Homo sapiens: one gene and its partners. The protein of the gene in region 1 binds, or shares a complex with, the protein of each later gene. Each region holds a gene or a part of one and is shown on either strand. Other genes may lie near its edges. A codon is read from its position in the direction of its gene.

Evidence for each region. The genes of interacting proteins can lie anywhere in the genome.
Region 2: the proteins of MZT1 (region 1) and TUBGCP3 are in contact, whole or in part, in a cryo-EM structure (PDB 7QJD), measured with the Homo sapiens proteins. Residues at the interface, in NP_001065243.1 of Homo sapiens: Asn17 (codon at 2,933), Ala20 (codon at 2,924), Val21 (codon at 2,921), Glu23 (codon at 2,915), Thr24 (codon at 2,912), Val27, Leu28, Glu30, Ile31, Ser32, Arg33, Ile34, Leu35, Asn36, Thr37, Leu39, Asp40, Glu42, Thr43, Ile46, Cys47, Val48, Arg49, Leu50, Cys51, Glu52, Gln53, Gly54, Ile55, Asn56; in NP_006313.1 of Homo sapiens: Lys7, Pro9, Leu12, Leu13, Asn15, Leu16, Cys17, Arg19, Ile20, Leu21, Arg23, Val28, Gln31, Tyr34, Ala35, Val38, Ile39, Asn42, Phe43, Ala44, Pro45, Thr46, Ile58, Leu62, Arg67, Asp70, Phe74, Leu77, Lys80, Leu81.
Region 3: the proteins of MZT1 (region 1) and TUBGCP5 are in contact, whole or in part, in a crystal structure (PDB 6L81), measured with the Homo sapiens proteins. Residues at the interface, in NP_001065243.1 of Homo sapiens: Glu23 (codon at 2,915), Val27, Leu28, Glu30, Ile31, Ser32, Ile34, Leu35, Asn36, Thr37, Leu39, Leu44, Ile46, Cys47, Val48, Arg49, Leu50, Cys51, Glu52, Gln53, Ile55, Asn56, Pro57, Glu58, Ala59, Leu60, Ser61, Ser62, Val63, Ile64; in NP_443135.3 of Homo sapiens: Gln14 (codon at 4,705), Gln15 (codon at 4,708), Asp18 (codon at 4,717), Val19 (codon at 4,720), Glu21 (codon at 4,726), Leu22 (codon at 4,729), Val23 (codon at 4,732), Val26 (codon at 4,741), Ala27 (codon at 4,744), Gly28 (codon at 4,747), Asn36 (codon at 4,771), Ala40 (codon at 4,783), Phe43 (codon at 4,792), Ala44 (codon at 4,795), Asn47 (codon at 4,804), Phe48 (codon at 4,807), Arg52 (codon at 7,064), Phe53 (codon at 7,067), Leu54 (codon at 7,070), Phe72 (codon at 7,217), Lys80 (codon at 7,241), Ser83 (codon at 7,250), Trp84 (codon at 7,253), Leu87 (codon at 7,262), Thr88 (codon at 7,265), Glu90 (codon at 7,271), Phe91 (codon at 7,274), Ala106, Ser109, Ile110.

The regions. Positions count from the first base shown.
Region 1 is NC_000013.11:72,724,622-72,731,652, forward strand, and holds the start of MZT1 (mitotic-spindle organizing protein 1), read right to left. Parts: upstream 3,009-7,031; 5' UTR 2,982-3,008; coding exon 2,903-2,981; intron 1-2,902. Other genes in the region: BORA (protein aurora borealis), read left to right, coding at 4,320-4,472, 6,660-6,766. UniProt on the Homo sapiens protein: Required for the recruitment and the assembly of the gamma-tubulin ring complex (gTuRC) at the centrosome.
Region 2 is NC_000013.11:112,484,506-112,487,183, forward strand, and holds the end of TUBGCP3 (gamma-tubulin complex component 3), read right to left. Parts: intron 1,647-2,678; coding exon 1,488-1,646; 3' UTR 506-1,487; downstream 1-505. UniProt on the Homo sapiens protein: Component of the gamma-tubulin ring complex (gTuRC) which mediates microtubule nucleation.
Region 3 is NC_000015.10:23,036,565-23,044,208, reverse strand, and holds the start of TUBGCP5 (gamma-tubulin complex component 5), read left to right. Parts: upstream 1-4,639; 5' UTR 4,640-4,665; coding exon 4,666-4,811; intron 4,812-5,032; exon of another isoform or gene 5,033-5,227; intron 5,228-7,056; coding exon 7,057-7,110; intron 7,111-7,203; coding exon 7,204-7,312; intron 7,313-7,644. UniProt on the Homo sapiens protein: Component of the gamma-tubulin ring complex (gTuRC) which mediates microtubule nucleation.

The DNA.
Region 1 (7,031 bases):
TTCGCCTCCCAGGTTCAAGCGATTCTCCTGCCTCAGCCTCCCAAGTAGCTGGGATTACAGGCACCCGTACTTACTACTAAATATATATATATATATACATATATATATATATATATATACACATATATATATGTAAAGTGGTGCTACAGGCCGGGCACAGTGGCTCACGCCTATAATCCCAGCACTTTGGGAGGCTGAGGCGGGTGGATCACCTGAGGTCAGGAGTTCCAGACCAGACTGGCCAACATGGTGAAACCCTGTCTCTACTAAAAATACAAAAATTAGCTGGGCGTGGTGGCGGGCGCCTATAATCCTAGTTACTCCAGAGGCCAAGGCAGGAGAATTGGTTCCCATCCCCAGCTTCAACCTGGGAGGCGGAGGTTGCAGTGAGCCAAGGTCGCGCCACTGCACTCCAGCCAGACTCGGTCTCAAAAAAAAAAAAAAAATAGTGCTATGATAAAGCCTCTCATAAGGAATAATTATCAAAATTAAAATTCAGATGCACAGGACGATTTTAGAGGAAAATAAAAATTAAGGTATAAAAAGCAATCAATAGAGAGTACCTAACATACCAAAAAGTTGAAAAGCAAAAGAGGCAACCATACACAGTGGGTTGCGAGGGGGGTGTTGTTGAAAAGGCACGACTATTTTAAGCGTGTAGAATTTTAGGGATATAAGGATGAAAGCAGAGATCTCATGCAGACCTTATTCTAAATTGGCAGAGATAGTTCTTTTCAGAGTGAGGTGCACAGATAATTTATTAATAGAAAGTTAGCCTGCTTCCTTCCATGTCTTTAACAAAATCCTTTCATTTCATGATCAAAATGCAAATGTAGCCAAGAGTTCTGCAATTCACATGACTTAAAGGGAGGTTCACAAATGCTACCATTGAGGGGAGAAATGGTATTCAAAAAGTTTTGAAAATTTTATTTTTGATCTCACGGGTTGATTTAAATACTGTGTAACACCACATCCCCTCTCCTTCATTTTTTGTTTTACTTCACTTTTTTGTGTTCTTACTCTCTTTATAATCTTCATTTCACACCAAGTTTTCTCAGAAGAGATCTTGATGATGCAGCCAACACAAACCATCAGTTCTCAATTGTACATCAGTGATTCCACCAGAGAAAATGTGAGTTTTCTGTTCAAATGGGATCCTGTGGCCATATACATAAGGAACCTAAGTACAGCTAACCTAAGAAAATAGGCTAGAAGTGAGGTCTTATACTCTACCTTTTTCCAAGGAAATATACAAGACAGTAAATTTATATTTATATACACACACATATATATATTCATACATAAATCCACTTACAAAATAAAACTATTAAGTGTTGATACATCGAAAAGGATAGAAAAATAAGCTGAATATTAAGAGTAACATTCTCAGAAAAACAGCAAGGTAGATACTGAACAAGTGAAAAATTAGATGCAAAGGCTCTAAAAGTGTAATTCTTTGAAAAGAAAACCAGGACCAGTGCAGAAAAAGCCAGCAGCCCCTCTGCAAGTGCTACATAAGAAAATGAGGCCGGGCATGGTGGCTCACGCCTGTAATCCTAGCATTTTGGGAGGCCGAGGCATGTGGATCACCTGAAGTCAGGAGTTCGAGACCAACCTGGCCAACATGGGGAAACTCCGTCTCTACTAAAAATACAAAAAATTAGCCGGGTGTTCTGGCGGGCACCTGTAATCCCAGCTACTCCAGAGGCTGAGGCAGGAGAATCGCCTGAACCCGGGAGGCGGAGGTTGCAGTGAGCCGAGGTTGCGCCATTGCACTCCACCCTGGGCAACTACAGCAAGACTGTGTCTCAAAAAAGAAAAAAAGAGCCTACGGTGAAGGAGAGAGAGATACAGCAGTGAGAATTTCATAGGGTTATCTTTTAACAGAGACGGAAGCTGACGTGAGTAGACCCTGGAAAACGTCTAGGCCCACTGCAAATAACAACATCGATCAAACACTCATAATACAGGTGGATGTGAGTAAAAAGGAGACAAAGAAAGAAGACTACAAGAGAGAGGCCATCTGAAATAATATAAAAATAATTGATCATCTTTGATATGTTTTTACATGGTTGTCTTATTTAAATATTCACAACTCCTGGAGGTAGGGTTTTATTTTACAGAAAAAAAAAAAAAAAAAACTAAACAGGCTCAATGATGTTTAAGTATCTAGTCCAAGCTCACCACAGGGGCATAAAGTGGCAGAACCGACATTAGAGGGTAGACAGAGGGTAACCGCAAGACACAAATTTCGTGTTCTGCAACACTTGTGTAGGCTTCACACACACGTGCCTCCGGGGCCGAAAACAGGCGACACCATAGCACTTGGGCACTGGTGTCACCCGCTTCAAGAGGAAACTAGGATAATTATGACCAAAGGGGAACTTGTTCATTCGCCGGATATTAAAGGTGCCTACTTAAGTGCGAAGAACAGGAGGCATAGCGGTGACCAAACACCTGGCCCCTGTCCCCGCCGGGATCCCAACCTTGGGGACCCCCGAAGCGCCCCGGGCGGGAATCGGGTGGGACGCGGCACGCAGGAGGGAACGGGTGTACTGGGTGGGGTGGGCGTGACGCTGTCACCGCAGGAGATCGGGCGGGTAGGGCGGACCTGGGATGCGGGATAGAGGGGGCGCGGCATTCGCGCGAGAGGGACGCGGTGCGCAACCGGCTGACTAGGGGCCGCAACGCCTAGCGCGCGCGACAAACTACGCAGCGGCGGAGACAACTCTCAAGGGATAGGGCCATCAGCCCTGCGGCCCTGGCAGGTCCCTACCAAAGATCTTGGAAGATGCCGTTTGGGGCACTAAGGGGACCTGAAGTCCTCCCCAGGCTCATTCCCGCCTGGGGGCCTTGGCTCTGGGAAGGCACGCAAGGTAAAGGGAGCGCAACGGAAACTCACCGTCCATGGTCTCCCGCACCGCATTCAGATTCGCCGCCGCGGCCGCCGCCGCCGCCCCAGCACCGCTGCTACTCGCCATGGCTAAGGCCGAGGGAGGCGGGAGAAGGGCCTGACCCGGAACTGGAGCGCCTTCCTCTCTCCGAGGCAATCACACAGCGCGTCTCGGCCCACGCCGGGCAGGCTCCGCCCCTCGCGCTCGCCGCCGGCGTGAGGCTGCGTTGATTTGAATTTGGAGCCACGTTCCTCTGCGCGGAACGTGGAGCGAGGAGTTGCCATTCGAATTTCCTACGCGGCCTCCGTGCGATTGGCTGGTTCGCGGATGGCGGGACGACACGATTGGCTAGTCGCTCACAAGCCCCGTGCCCTGGTTGGCCCAAGACAGCGCGGAAGCGGGGAGTTAAAGAGTCTATGCCTGTCGTGGAAGCTGGCCTGGCCCCCGGAGCTCCCTGGAGTCGGTACTGGGGGCTTCGTTTTGTACGCACCGGTAGGTACGCTCTTTGTGGTCCCTGGCCTTTCCTCCTGTCTGAATGGAGAGGTTTCTTTTCCCAGCTCCTGACTTGCCTGCCCGCTCGCCCCTGGTGAATGGGAGCAGTCAGGGAGTAGGTGTGGAAGAGAGGGGCACCAGAAAGAGTGGCCACGTAGGGTTGGGGGCGACGCCTCCTTCGCACTCCATCCAGGGAAGCCGGCTGCATCTCAACCTTCCAGAAGTAGACTCTTTTCCACCCCACCCCGCCAAGGTGTAGCCTCTGTAGCCTCCTTTGATTGCAAGTAATGCAGTCTCCCTTTCTATCCCGGGAGGGGTGGAGGGGAGGTCTTGGCGAAAGGAGGATTTTTGGAGGAAAGGGGACCCCAGGCAGTTAATTTCCTAGCCCCTGTCAATCATACTTCTCTGGCTAGGACTCATGTGCAAGAAAGGCACAAGCTTCCTCATCTCTTACCTGCTTGCTACAAAGAATTGTTTAATAGCAACTGTAGTTGGATAGGGTATCCGAAGAATGTTCATAGTGTTGAGACATGAGATGATGAATTTAAAAAAAATTGTAGCTATAAGTCCTTTAGTTGAGAAGAGATCTGGGCCTGTTGTAACCTTTAGTTTCCTCAGAGGCAGATCTGAATTCATTCATATTTGATTGCTGCGTATAAGCCACTTCACTTCTCTGAGCTTAATACTTTCGCAAAATAATATCACTAGTAAGTTACTGCTATAGCTTTCAAGGTTGTTTCGAGGATCAGTTGAGAACATTTATATGTGATACTTTTTTTGTAAGCTGTATCATAGCCCCAAGAGTGTGAGGTTTTGAGTTGTTTTTTGTGACACATTTGTCGAGTACATTTTAATAGTTAAAATTAATATCTATGGGACTTTGTAATTTTAACATGCATACTCTTGATTTCTTTTTAGTTTTCTCTCTGTGCTATGGGAGATGTCAAGGAATCAAAGATGCAAATAACACCAGAAACTCCAGGAAGGATCCCTGTTTTAAATCCTTTTGAAAGTCCTAGTGATTATTCTAATCTCCATGAACAAACTCTCGCCAGTCCTTCTGTTTTTAAATCAACAAAATTACCAGTAAGTTATTCCTGACTAGTGTTTACAACTAATTTTAAATGTAAGTAATTACAAATAATTTTAAATGTAAACATCTGTCTTTACAAGGTAAGGAGGAAATACATTATGGAGCATATATAGCTGCAATATACTTTTTTAAATTGTAGTGTTCATTATAATCTAGTGGTTAGGTTAATAAGTTAGCTAGAAGATTTTTTTTTTTTTAAGTTCAAGAACATACGTTAGCTTCCTGCAGTTGTGGGTGTAGCTACATTCTGTGGTTGACGATATAGCTACTAATACATTAGAGAAGAAGCTGCATCATCTAATATTCTGTTCTCACTTATTTGGCAAACATTATTTGAGTGTTGCTATGTGTCAGATACAGTGCTAAGCAGGGATTACACTGTGAACAAGTTAGGATCATTAGGCACAAATCCTTAAGGAGGTTATACTCCGATGTATGGGTCACAAACTTTCTGTTAGGGGCCAGACAGTAAATATTTAAGCTTTACAGGTCATTTGGTCTCTGTCACAACTACTCACTTCTGTCTTGTATCACAAAAGCAGCCATAGGCAATGTGTAAAGAGATAAATGTTACTCTGTTCCAATACAGCTTTATTTATGGACACATTTGAATTTCATATAATTTTCACATGTCACAAGATATTTTTTTGTTTGTTTTCCCAACCATTTGAAACTGTCAAAATAATTCTTAGCTTGCAATCTATTATAAAAAGAAACTAACCCCTATTTTAATGTGTTAAACAGAACTAGATGAGTAATATCAAGGCAGTGTGATAGGTGATATGATTAGTACTTAGGACAATAGTAATATGAAGGAAAAGTGTTCTTCAGGATATTAGAAAAGGCTTCATCACTTTATCTTTTTTTTTTTTTTGGTAGAGATGGGATTTCACCATGTTGGCCAGGCTGATCTCGAACTCCTGACCTCATGTGATGCACCCACTTCAGCCTCCCAAAGTGCTGGGATTACAGGCATGAGCCACCATGCCCGGGCCACTTTATCTTATTTTACTGTTATTTGCTACACTGGATAAGTTCTTTTGACCTTGGATCTTTCAACCTACCAAGTTACTTAGAAAAACTGCAAATAGGGTGGCTGTTTCTGCTACACTTTCATACAGGTTTTACAATGAGCAAGTATGTACTAGTGGAAGGTCGAGCAGTTTATATTGAGTCATTTCATCAATCTGACCTTATGATTTTTAATTGAATCATTAAAATTTATCTCTTGGTCTTACTAAAAATAAATAATAGATTGACGGCAGCTTAATCCTCAAAGTTGGAATGTATGGCATCTTGCGTTTTTAGGACTGAATTTGCCTAGAATATATTTCTAATTACAGATTAGGATTTGGATAAACCTTTAATTCAGTTGCATGGTTGAGTACAGAAAGGCAGCACTGGTTGCCATTCATAATTATTTTAAGGATCAACTATGTTGTGAGCTTTTGCAGCCACCTCCAAAGTGACTAAGGACTTTAATTTCAGTTCCTTCTTAGTGAAAGTAAAGACGTTTGTTAACTGTGAGAGATTTTTACTTTTACATGGGCTTAGTTTATCACACTGATGAGTGTTAATTGTGAAAGTTTTATATCTTTATTACTCTGTTGTGATTTTTCTCGTATTACGTAATTCCAACCCAGGTGAAAGATTCTGATATTTTAAAAGAGATACAGGCTGGGCGCTGTGGCTCATGCCTGTAATCCCAGCACTGCCAAGGTGGGCTGATGACTTGAAGTCAGGAGTTTGAGACCAGCCTGGCCAACATGGTGAAACCCCATCTCTACTAAAAAAAAAAAAAAAAAAAAAATACAAAAATTAGCTGGGTGTGGTGGCGGGTGCCTGTAATCCCAGCTACTCAGGAGGCTGAGGCAGGAGAATCGCTTGAACCGGGGAGGTGGAGGTTGCAGTGAGCTGAGATTACACCAGTGCACTCCAGCCTCGGTGACAGAACGAGACTCTGTCTTAAACAAAGAGAGAGAGAGATACAATTAAGTCAGTTGATCGAATGTGATATGATTACCCTTTGCCATTTAATTTCATGGTAAAGTCAAATTTTAAAATACAAGCTTTAAAATATTTTCATATTATAACCATTCATATTATTTCTCACATAGGTTAGCATTTTGATGAACTATTTTAGTTTGCCTTTACTCATAAGCTCACTTTCTTTTGTTAAGACTCCAGGGAAATTTAGATGGTCTATTGATCAACTAGCTGTAATAAATCCTGTAGAAATAGACCCAGAAGATATTCATCGTCAAGCTTTATACTTAAGTCATTCTCGGTAAGTTTTCCTTTCTTGCACCTAAGTCTAATAACACTCTCAAGTGAAGAGAGGTAGGAAATTCTAAATGTTGAGTATTTTTCTATGTAAAGGTATCAGGGAGAAAAAATTTTGATGCAGATTTTTTCTATCTAAATGAATGAGTTCAAAGAACTACATTCAGAAAGATTTTCTTGCCAACAGTTCCAGACCTGAGTAGATACCTTTTTCTTTTACAAGTAACCTTTTCCCTCTGCTACTGAGGTGACAGCTCTGTACCCCTAGC
Region 2 (2,678 bases), about 40 Mb from region 1:
TGGTTTCTACTGAGGATTAATCCCTGGAACAACTCTCTGAATAAAATAAAATAAAAGCTGGCTGCATGGTCAATTACCTTGGTAAACCTCTCGTGGAGATAAACAATATGCAATAATTTCTAAAAAACCTTGCAGTAGAAAAACCTGTTTCAAATTTCTGATTTTATGAACTTCAAAACTAAAATTACATTGAATTTCTGGCCTTTGCCATGAATTCATTTCTGCATGGCCAGGATTCCTGACAGCCCCTTTAGTTTTAAAGGTAATCCACACCTAAAGGAGTCAGAGGTGGATTCAGATAACTAAAGCACCGCTCCTGAGACCTGAGCGGTGACATTGCCTTTGCTTCTATACCAAAAGTCACACAAAGTCTACTTTCCTGGTTTCACTGATTAAATAATTCATATGCTGTACTATATTAAATCAAATTCTACCAACCCTCAACCCCCAAATCCAGCAAGTAAACTGTCCCTTCATAAACTACTCAAGAAATAACGAATGCATCTGAAAGATAATTGCTTTTAATTTTCTAAATTTTCACTTATGCAACATAAAGGCAGATTTATGTGACCTGATAATGACATTTTTACAAAAAACAATCCCCCCCACCCCAACATCTTGGTCAGTAGTATATAAATATTTACAATGAAAAAATAGGCAAGGAAAAAGGAAATCTTCATTATCCATGTCGATTTCTTTCCAATGCTTATCAGGAACTTTGAAAATAAAATACTCCATTAACTTTCTCGTCACTCCTATTTACACGCTGCTTTAGCTGATGCATTCGCGGTATTTGGGTTGCACTGTATAAGAGTATTTTTGTTCTCTATCACTCCTACTTTTTTCTATACTATTTTAAAAATCTGAAATAGTAAATTAAATATAAAAATGTAAACTCTGAAAGGAGAGAAAATAAGAATAAATATGTGTAAAGGTAATGCATTAAGATACAAAGGATCTCACAGAGGTTAATATTTTACAACACTAAAAAAAAATAAAATGCTCTATATATTTTCTTAGTTGGGACATTTTGTTTCAATTTAATTTTTGGTTATGTTAACAAAAATTACCTCTAAAGAGGATGTTAAAAAAATAGCAATGACGTTACCATCTTAACTAATGAATATCCTATCACCCTAATTTTTTCTAAAAGAAATGGATTTTTTAAAGTGACAAATATAAATTATAACATAGAAAGCTTAAGAAGCCTCAGCAAATTATGGTATCTTTTAGCGATGAAGACTTTTAGAGACAAATGTGAACAGTGCAGCCAGCCTACTTGACTTAGGGATTTACAAATGCATTCGACTCCGACATGTGAAACACGACGTGGCTTCTCCCACACGCCGCTCCGCTGAAACATGGCGCACTCGTGGGCGGAAGGGCAGGACACCTGCAGCATGCAGTTCCTGCAGGACGTCAATGGGAATTTCGTGTCTAGCAGTGCAACGAACATCACCCGCAGCTCCCTGGGAGGACCGCGAGCTTCACGTGTGGGAGCTGCGCCGCCCCCTGGTACCCAGAGACACACGGAGCCTGGGCTCCCTGGCTTTGTAATGCTCGTTGAAGTCCAGCCTGAAGCTAAGAAACCGAAGACTCTCGTCAGAGCTGGTCGTCAGTAACACCAAAAACTGCTGCACGATACCCTAAAAAGAAGCAAAAGGAGTAAAATATTGTTTCAGAAAAGAACAACCCACAAACGTATTCCCCGGACCTTAATCTCCTTTGGGTTGGGTCTGTTTTTCCTTCCAGATCAACAGGCCCTTAGTAAATGCCCACCAGGGCAGGTGTCCAGGGAGCAAGAGCTGCTGGGACCCTGGAGTGCACACGGCCAGTGCACCTGCATTAGGAATGGGCGCCCTTTTACAAGGACAAATTAGTGAAGAATACATTTGATTTGAAAACAACTAACCAACAGGTTTTTTCACTTTGTTCTTAAGTTCCACAAGAATAAGCAAAACAGCAAAGTAACAGATGTTAGAACATTCTATTTTGAATACAAAACTCAGTGCCACATATTTCATCTTTCATATGACTCATGAAAGAGGATTTCATCCTAGAGCCCTTGCTGGAGAACAAATTGAGAGCATCAGTCGGGTCTTTGGGTCTAGCTGCTGGACGTGAGGCTGCAGCCGCCCTCTTCATGGGCACTGGCATCGCCATCATCCTGTTACTGAGGGCGTTTTTAAAGATGTGACAGAAGTTTCCCCTAACTCTGATAAGACGAAAGGACTGGCTGCTTCTATTTCAGGCTGAAAGACTTGCATACTGAGTACAGGCCCATCCCCGCCCAGTGCTGGAGCCTGCTGCATGCCACGGGGTGCTGATCTGTTCACAGAACTGCTGGCCTGGAAAGGCCTCATCTGCAGAGAAAACTCACTGAGGCACTGCGTCCTCACCAAGCCCCGCCCAAGTCTTCACCAGCTGTCACTGCCCCTTCCCAGCTTCTGGTCAGAAACACGAATGCTGAAGCTCACAGGCAGGCCTGGGCACAGGCTCTGCTGTGTTGATAAAGTAACTTCACCTCTGAGCAGGCAAACACTGTGTATGTGTGTGTGTGTGTGTGTGTGTGTGTGTCTGTGTGTGTGTGTGTGTGTATCACTGCCTTTTTAGGTGAGGGAAGAAGAACACGCCTAAGAAGTTATATTGCCAAAATATAGACAGTGACTTCCTATTAT
Region 3 (7,644 bases), on another chromosome or scaffold:
AGGTGGGGTTAAGAAGCTCCCCCAGCCCCCAGCACTTCCGGCCAGCTGGGGTTATGATGGCCCCACAGCACCTCTGGCCAGGTGGGGTTATGATGACCCCCCAGCACCTCTGGCCAGGTGAGGTTATGATGTCCCCCCAGCACCCCTGGCCAGGTGGGGTTATGAAATCCCCCCCAGCACCTCTGGCCAGGTGACATTTATGAAGTCACCCCCAGCACCTCTGGCCAGGTGGGGTTATGATGGCCCCACAGCACCGCTGGCCAGGTGGGGTTATGATGGCCCCCCAGCATCTCTGGCCAGGTGTGATTATGATATCCCCTAGCACCTCTGGCCAGGTGAGGTTATGATGTCCCCCCAGCACCTCTGGCCAGGTGGGGTTATGAAATCCCCCGCAGCACCTCTGGCCAGGTGACATTTATGAAGTCACCCCCAGCAACTCTGGCCAGGTGGGGTTATGAAGTTCCCCCCGCCCCCCGGCACCTCCGGCCAGCTGGGGTTATGATGGCCCCACAGCACCTCTGGCCAAGTGGGATTATGACCCCCCCAGCACCTCTGGCCAGGTGGGGTTATAATACCCCCCCACAGCACCTCTGGCCAGGTGAGGTTATGATGTCCCCCCAGCACCTCTGGCCAGGTGTGGTTATGAAGTCCTCCTGGCACCTCTGGCCAGGTGTGATTATGAAGTCCCACTAGCACCTCTGGCCAGGTGGGGTTATGAAATCTCCCCCAGCACCTCTGGCCAGCTGTGGTTATGAAATCCCCCCCAGCACCTCTGGCCTGGTGACATTTATGAAGTCACCCCCAGCACCTCCGGCCAGGTAGGGTTAGGAAGTTCCCCCCGCCCCCCAGCACCTCCGGCCAGGTGGGGTTATGATGTCCCCCCAGCATCTCTGGCCAGGTGGGATTATGATATCCCCCTAGCACCTCTGGCCAGGTGAGGTTATGATGTCCCCCCAGCACCTCTGGCCAGGTTGGGTTATGAAATCCCCCCAGCACCTCTGGCCAGGTGACATTTATGAAGTCACCCCCAGCACCTCTGGCCAGGTGGGGTTATGAAGTTCCCCCCGCCCCCCAGCACCTCTGGCAGGTGGGGTTATGATGTCCCCCCAGCATCTCTGGCCAGGTGGGATTATGATACCCCCCAGCACCTCTGGCCAGGTGAAGTTATGATGTCCCCCCAGCACCTCTGGCCAGGTGGGGTTATGAAGTCCCCCAGGACCTCTGGCCAGGTGGGGTTATGAAGTCCCCCCCAGCACCTCTGGCCAGGTGGGGTTATGAAATCCCCTCCAGCACCTCTGGCCAGGTGACATTTATGAAGTCACCCCTAGCACCTCTGTCCGGGTAGGGTTATGAAATTCCCCCTGCCCCCAGCACCTCCGGCCAGCTGGGGTTATGATGGCCCCACAGCACCTCTGGCCAGGTGGGGTTATGATGTCCCCCCAGCATCTCTGGCCAGGTGGGATTATGATACCCCCCAGCACCTCTGGCCAGGTGAGGTTATGATGTCCCCCAGCACCTCTGGCCAGGTGGGGTTATGAAGTCCTCCCGGCACCTCTGGCCAGGTGTGGTTATGAAGTCCCCCGCAGCACCTCTGGCCAGGTGGGGTTATGAAATCCCCCCCAGCACCTCTGGCCAGGTGACAGTTATGAAGTCACCCCCAGCACCTCTGGCCAGGTGGGGTTATGAAGTTCCCCCCGCCCCCCAGCACCTCCGGCCAAGTGGGGTTATGATGGCCCCAGAGCACCTCTGGCCAGGTGGGATTATGATGTCCCCCAGCACCTCTGGCCAGGTGGGGTTATGATGTCCCCCCTGGCACCTCTGGCCAGGTGGGGTTATGATGTCCCCCAGCACCTCTGGCCAGGTGGGGTTATGAAGTCCCACCGGCACCTCTGGCCAAGTGTGGTTATGACGTCCCCCCCAGCACCTCTGGCCAGGTGGGGATATAATACCCACCCCCAGCACCTCTGGCCAGGTGAGGTTATGATGTCCCCCCGGCACCTCTGGCCAGGTGTGGTTATGATGTCCCCCCGGTACCTCTGGCCAGGTGTGGTTATGAAGTCCCCCCGGCACCTCTGGCCAGGTGGGGTTATGAAGTCCCACCGGCACCTCTGGCCAGGTGTGGTTATGATGCCCCCCCGGCACCTCTGGCCAGGTGTGGTTATGAAGTCCTCCCGGCACCTCTGGCCAGGTGGGGTTATGAAGTCCCCCCGGCACCTCTGGCCAGGTGGGGTTATGAAATCCCCCCCAGCACCTCTCGCCAGGTGACATTTTGAAGTCACCCCCAGCACCTCTGGCCAGGTGGGGTTAAGAAGTTCCCCCCGCCGCCCAGCACCTCTGGCCAGGTGGGGTTATGATGGCCCACCAGGACCTCCTGCCAGCTGGGGTTATGATGGCCCCACAGCACCTCTGTCGAGGTAGGATTATGATACCCCCCAGCACCTCTGGCCAGGTGGGGTTATAATACCCCCCCACAGCACCTCTGGCCAGGTGAGGTTATGATGTCCCCCCAGCACCTCTGGCCAGGTGTGGTTATGAAGTCCTCCTGGCACCTCTGGCCAGGTGTGGTTATGAAGTCCCCCCAGCACCTCTGGCCAGGTGGGGTTATGAAATCTCCCCCAGCACCTATGGCCAGCTGTGGTTATGAAATCCCCCCCAGCACCTCTGGCCAGGTGACATTTATGAAGTCACCACCAGCACCTCTGGCCAGGTGGGGTTATGAAGTTCCCCCCGCCCCCCAGCACCTCCGGCCAGGTGGGGTTATGATGTCCCCCCAGCATCTCTGGCCAGGTGGGATTATGATATCCCCCTAGCACCTCTGGCCAGGTGAGGTTAAGATGTCCCCCCAGCACCTCTGGCCAGGTTGGGTTATGAAATCCCCCCAGCACCTCTGGCCAGGTGACATTTATGAAGTCACCCCCAGCACCTCTGGCCGGGTGGGGTTATGAAGTTCCCCCCGCTCCCCAGCACCTCCGGCCAGCTGGGGTTATGATGGCCCCACAGCACCTCTGGCCAAGTGGGGTTATGATGTCCCCCCAGCATCTCTGGCCAGGTGGGATTATGATACCCCCCAGCACCTCTGGCCAGGTGAGGTTATGATGTCCCCCCAGCACCTCTGGCCAGGTGGGGTTATGAAATCCCCCCCAGCACCTCTGGCCAGGTGACATTTATGAAGTCACCCCCAGCACCTCTGGCCAGGTGGGGTTAAGAAGTTCCCCCCGCCCCCCAGCACCTCCGGCCAGCTGGGGTTATGATGGCCCCACAACACCTCTGGCCAGGTGGGGTTATGATGTCCCCCCAGCATCTCTGGCCAGGTCAGATTATGATACCCCCCAGCACCTCTGGCCAGGTGAGGTTATGATGTCCCCCCAGCACCCCTGGTCAGGTGGGGTTATGAAATCCCCCCCAGCACCTCTGGCCAGGTGACATTTATGAAGTCACCCCCAGCACCTCTGGCCAGGTGGGGTTACGAAGTTCCCCCCGCCCCCCAGCACCTCCGGCCAGGTGGGGTTATGATGGCCCCACAGCACCTCTGGCCAGGTGGGGTTATGATGGCCCCCCAGCATCTCTGGCCAGGTGGGATTATGATACCCCCTAGCACCTCTGGCCAGGTGAGGTTATGATGTCCCCCCAGCACCTCTGGCCAGGTGGGGTTATGAAGTTCCCCCCGCCCCCCGGCACCTCCGGCCAGCTGGGGTTATGATGTCCCCCCAGAATCTCTGGCCAGGTGGGATTATGATATCCCCCTAGCACCTCTGGCCAGGTGAGGTTAAGATGTCCCCCCAGCACCTCTGGCCAGGTTGGGTTATGATGGCCCCACAGCACCTCTGGCCAGGTGGGATTATGATACCCCCTAGCACCTCTGAGCAGGTGAGGTTATGATGTCCCCCCAGCACCTCTGTCCAGGTGTGGTTATGAAGTCCTCCCGGCACCTCTGGCTAGGTGTGGTTATGAAGTCCCCCCAGCACCTCTGGCTAGGTGGGGTTATGAAATCTCCCCCACCACCTCTGGCCAGGTGACATTTATGAAGTTCCCCCCCTCAGCACCTCTGGCCAGGTGGGGTCATGAAGTCCCCCAAGCCGCCCCTGAGGAACAGGCGAGGCAAGGGCCAGCAGGCACTACTAGCGGGTCGGGACAGCTGCTTCGCTGATGCTGGTTGTGTAGCATGGATGTGTGTAGCGTGACTGTGTTGTGTGGATGGGGCACGGAAATCCGCAGAGACCATCACTGGAGGGAGAAGCTGCAGGGCCGGGAGGGTTCAGCAGGTAAGCAGTTCAGGGTTCCTGGAAAGGCGGGTCCCAATGCATTTGCTGACCGGGCACCTAACGGGCTGCTCTCAAAATCACTGACTGTCACCGAGGCCGGCCAGAGACCCTTATGTATCTGATTCACGATGACACCAGCTAACTCTGAGTACAGTAGAAAACGTACCGTCGGGCAACCAGAAAATGCGCACTCCAGTCCCCACCACGGGACAGCGCCAGGCAGTACCCTCCACAGCCGGAGCTCGAACTGTCGCGAGAATAGCGGTCGGCTTGGAAGTCGCCCGGCGCGGGAGCGCGAACTCTCGCGAGAATGCCGCCAGCTCCGGAGGCGACTGCGGCAGGAGCCCGAGCTCTCGCGCGACAGGCACCAATTCGTTAGACGCGCGCTGCAGGAGCGCGGAACATGGCGCGGCACGGGCCACCGTGGAGTCGGTTGGACGCGCAGCAGGAGCGCGACGTGCGGGAGCTCGTCCGGGGTGTCGCCGGCCTCCAGGACGAGGCAGACCCCAACTTCCAGCTCGCCCTAAACTTCGCCTGGTCCAACTTCAGGTGTGGGGCACGGCGCGCGGGCGGGTTCCCGGCCACAGCCCGGAGCCCGCGCGTGGGTCCCGCACAGCCCGGGGTCGGGGCGCGCTGGGGCAGGGCATGGGGCGGAGGCGGGCGCGGCCTCAGGGAGCCTTCGCAGGCCCTGCCACCGCCTGCTCCCCGCCGGCCAGCGCTCTCGGCGCGGTGCCCTGCGCACCACAGGGCGTGTTACCCGGGACGCGTCCTGATCGTCACGGGGAAAGCGTGAACTGGGTTTCTTGCCGGCCGGCGCGCGCGCCTGCAACCCCAGCGCTCTGGGAGGCCCAGGCGGGACTCCAGGCCAGCTTGGGCAACGTAGCAACTCCATGTTTATAATTTTTTTTTTTTTTAAATTAAAGAGATTGTATTCTCACTGACTCCTGCTCCCTGGTCAGCCCAGTGTAAGATCTCTCACCCTGCTCTCCTTTTTCCAAAACGCGTGTCATGACACTGATTTAACCTGTCATTACTGTCTCCTCCACTTCCACTCCAGCTAGAATGCTGCATCTCTGCACAGCTCCTGGCACGTAGCACGCTGAGTCACCTAATACAATTTCTAATGCAGTTTCTCTTGTAACTAATTTTTAAAGACTTACAGAATTTAGATATTTACGTAAAGTGAGATCTCCTATTTTTCTTTATGGGAGATGTAAATTAATACTTTTAGAGTCATTACCCATAATGAAATTATTACTAAAAAAATGTTAATGTTAATATTCTACCTGTTTAATTTCAGTAAAAATCTTCTTGAATAATGAACAGTTTTTCAAAATCCGTAATCTTAGTTACCTTAATGATCATAGCCATAAAGTGTCTAGTTGGCTTATAATAGGAATACGGGGCTTTCAGATTCTTTTAAACCATGCCAAGTTTCTGAAGTAATAAACTGAATTCTTAAGTGTAACTTATAAAAATAAACAATGTGTGAAATAGGTTATACAATACAGAAACTTAAATGCTGAAATCCAAGTTATTTTTCTACTAATATTTCTAAATGACAGTAGGCAGATTGTCATCATTTTAGAGCTGGGAGAGACGTTGGAGGTTACTATTTTCATTCACAGATTTCAGGAACTAAATTATAATAGGTAAAGTGGTGTTCCATTCACCCATTTACTGGCCTAGAATCATGTGTTTTTCAGTAGTGTAATTTTATTTAAGTACAGATTGCTCGCTTTGATACTAAAAAATGGAAAACATTTTTTGCATAGGCTATGCTATGTACATATACATTAGTTGCATAGGCTGTGCTGTAATTTTATGATGCTTTAAACCATCAGAAAAATGAATAGTTCATGTTTACATTCTTGAAAATTGTGGACTGGGCGCGGTGGCTCACGCCTGTAATCCCAGCACTTTAGGAGGCCGAGGTGGGTGGATCACGAGGTCAGGAGATCGAGACTATCCTGGCTAACACGGTGAAACCCGGTCTCTACTAAAAGTACAAAAAATTAGCCGGGCGTGGTGGCAGGCGCCTGTAGTCCCAGCTACTTGGGAGGCTGAGGCAGGAGAATGGCGCGAACCCAGGAGGCGGAGCTTGCACTGAGCAAGCTCACTTTTCTCTAACTGAAAAGTAGCATCTCCTTCTATTATGAATGAAGGCAGCAAACCATAGCAGTATTAGCCTACCTATGACTTTATCACCAGTAGAAATCGCATACTGTTTTCACATCAGAGTTGTAGATATTTGTAAATGTTGTTTACTGTTACTTTAATGGTAGTTAATTGGACCTACTGCTAAATCTTGTTATTTAATACTTTCATAAATAACATTTCTTGCCATATCTTAAACTTCTTTAAATATTTGACAACTGTATCTCAGTATAATGGGATTCCTTTGTATTTATTTTTTGGCTTTAAAAATGTTATTCAGAGAAGGGGTCCTTAGGCTTCACCGGGCCTCACTATGGCATAAAAAGGTTGGGACCACCTGATGTAGAATGTGTTCAGCTGGACTTAGGTACAGGGGCTTATGGGAAGACAGAGGAGCCAGAGGACAAGGTTGGGAGGGTCAGGAAGAACCTGTGTGCTGGAGAAAGGATGCTTGCACAGTCTCGGACACGGTGATTATTTGCCTGCCTGATGGTGGAGGTAACGGAGGACAAGGTACACTCCATTCTGGAAATGTGTAGCTGAGTACAGAGCATATGGGGGATATGGAGGGCCATGAGATGAGTTCACTTACCTGTGTGACAGAGTTGGCATAAGAATTGCATTTTGTCTTTAATAGATTTCATCGTTTCTTGGATGTCAACAGCCACAAAATAGAAAAAACAATCGAAGGGTAAGTCAGTGTGTATATATACGCATCCAGAAATATATGTATTTTCTTATAGATCTTTTTAAGATAGCTTTATAATCTTTTCTTATATTTTAGAATTTATGAAAAATTTGTCATTCATTCTGATCTAAGCAAAGCTGCTAGTTGGAAGAGATTAACGGAGGAATTTCTAAATGCACCACTTCCCAGTATAAAGGAAATAAAGGTATGCCTTCAATTATGAGATCTCCACTGTGTATTTTACTGTTTCCTATCTGATTATCGTCAATTTGTTTCAGTTACTGTTTAAACATTCTATTTTAGTATTATCTACTGGCTAACGGGATCTCTTGGAAATTTACTTAAATATTGCCATCAAACCAGATATGCCTCAGTTTGTGATGAAAGAAAGAGCTTGTTTTTAATCATTTTTTCACCTCAGTCCTACTAAGGAAAGAGAGATCAGAGATTGATACAAATAGTAGCATTGTTTGGGTATCTCAAAACTTTCAAATGGTTTCTCAGCACTTGGCAGTGACTGTCTGTAGATGCTTACTA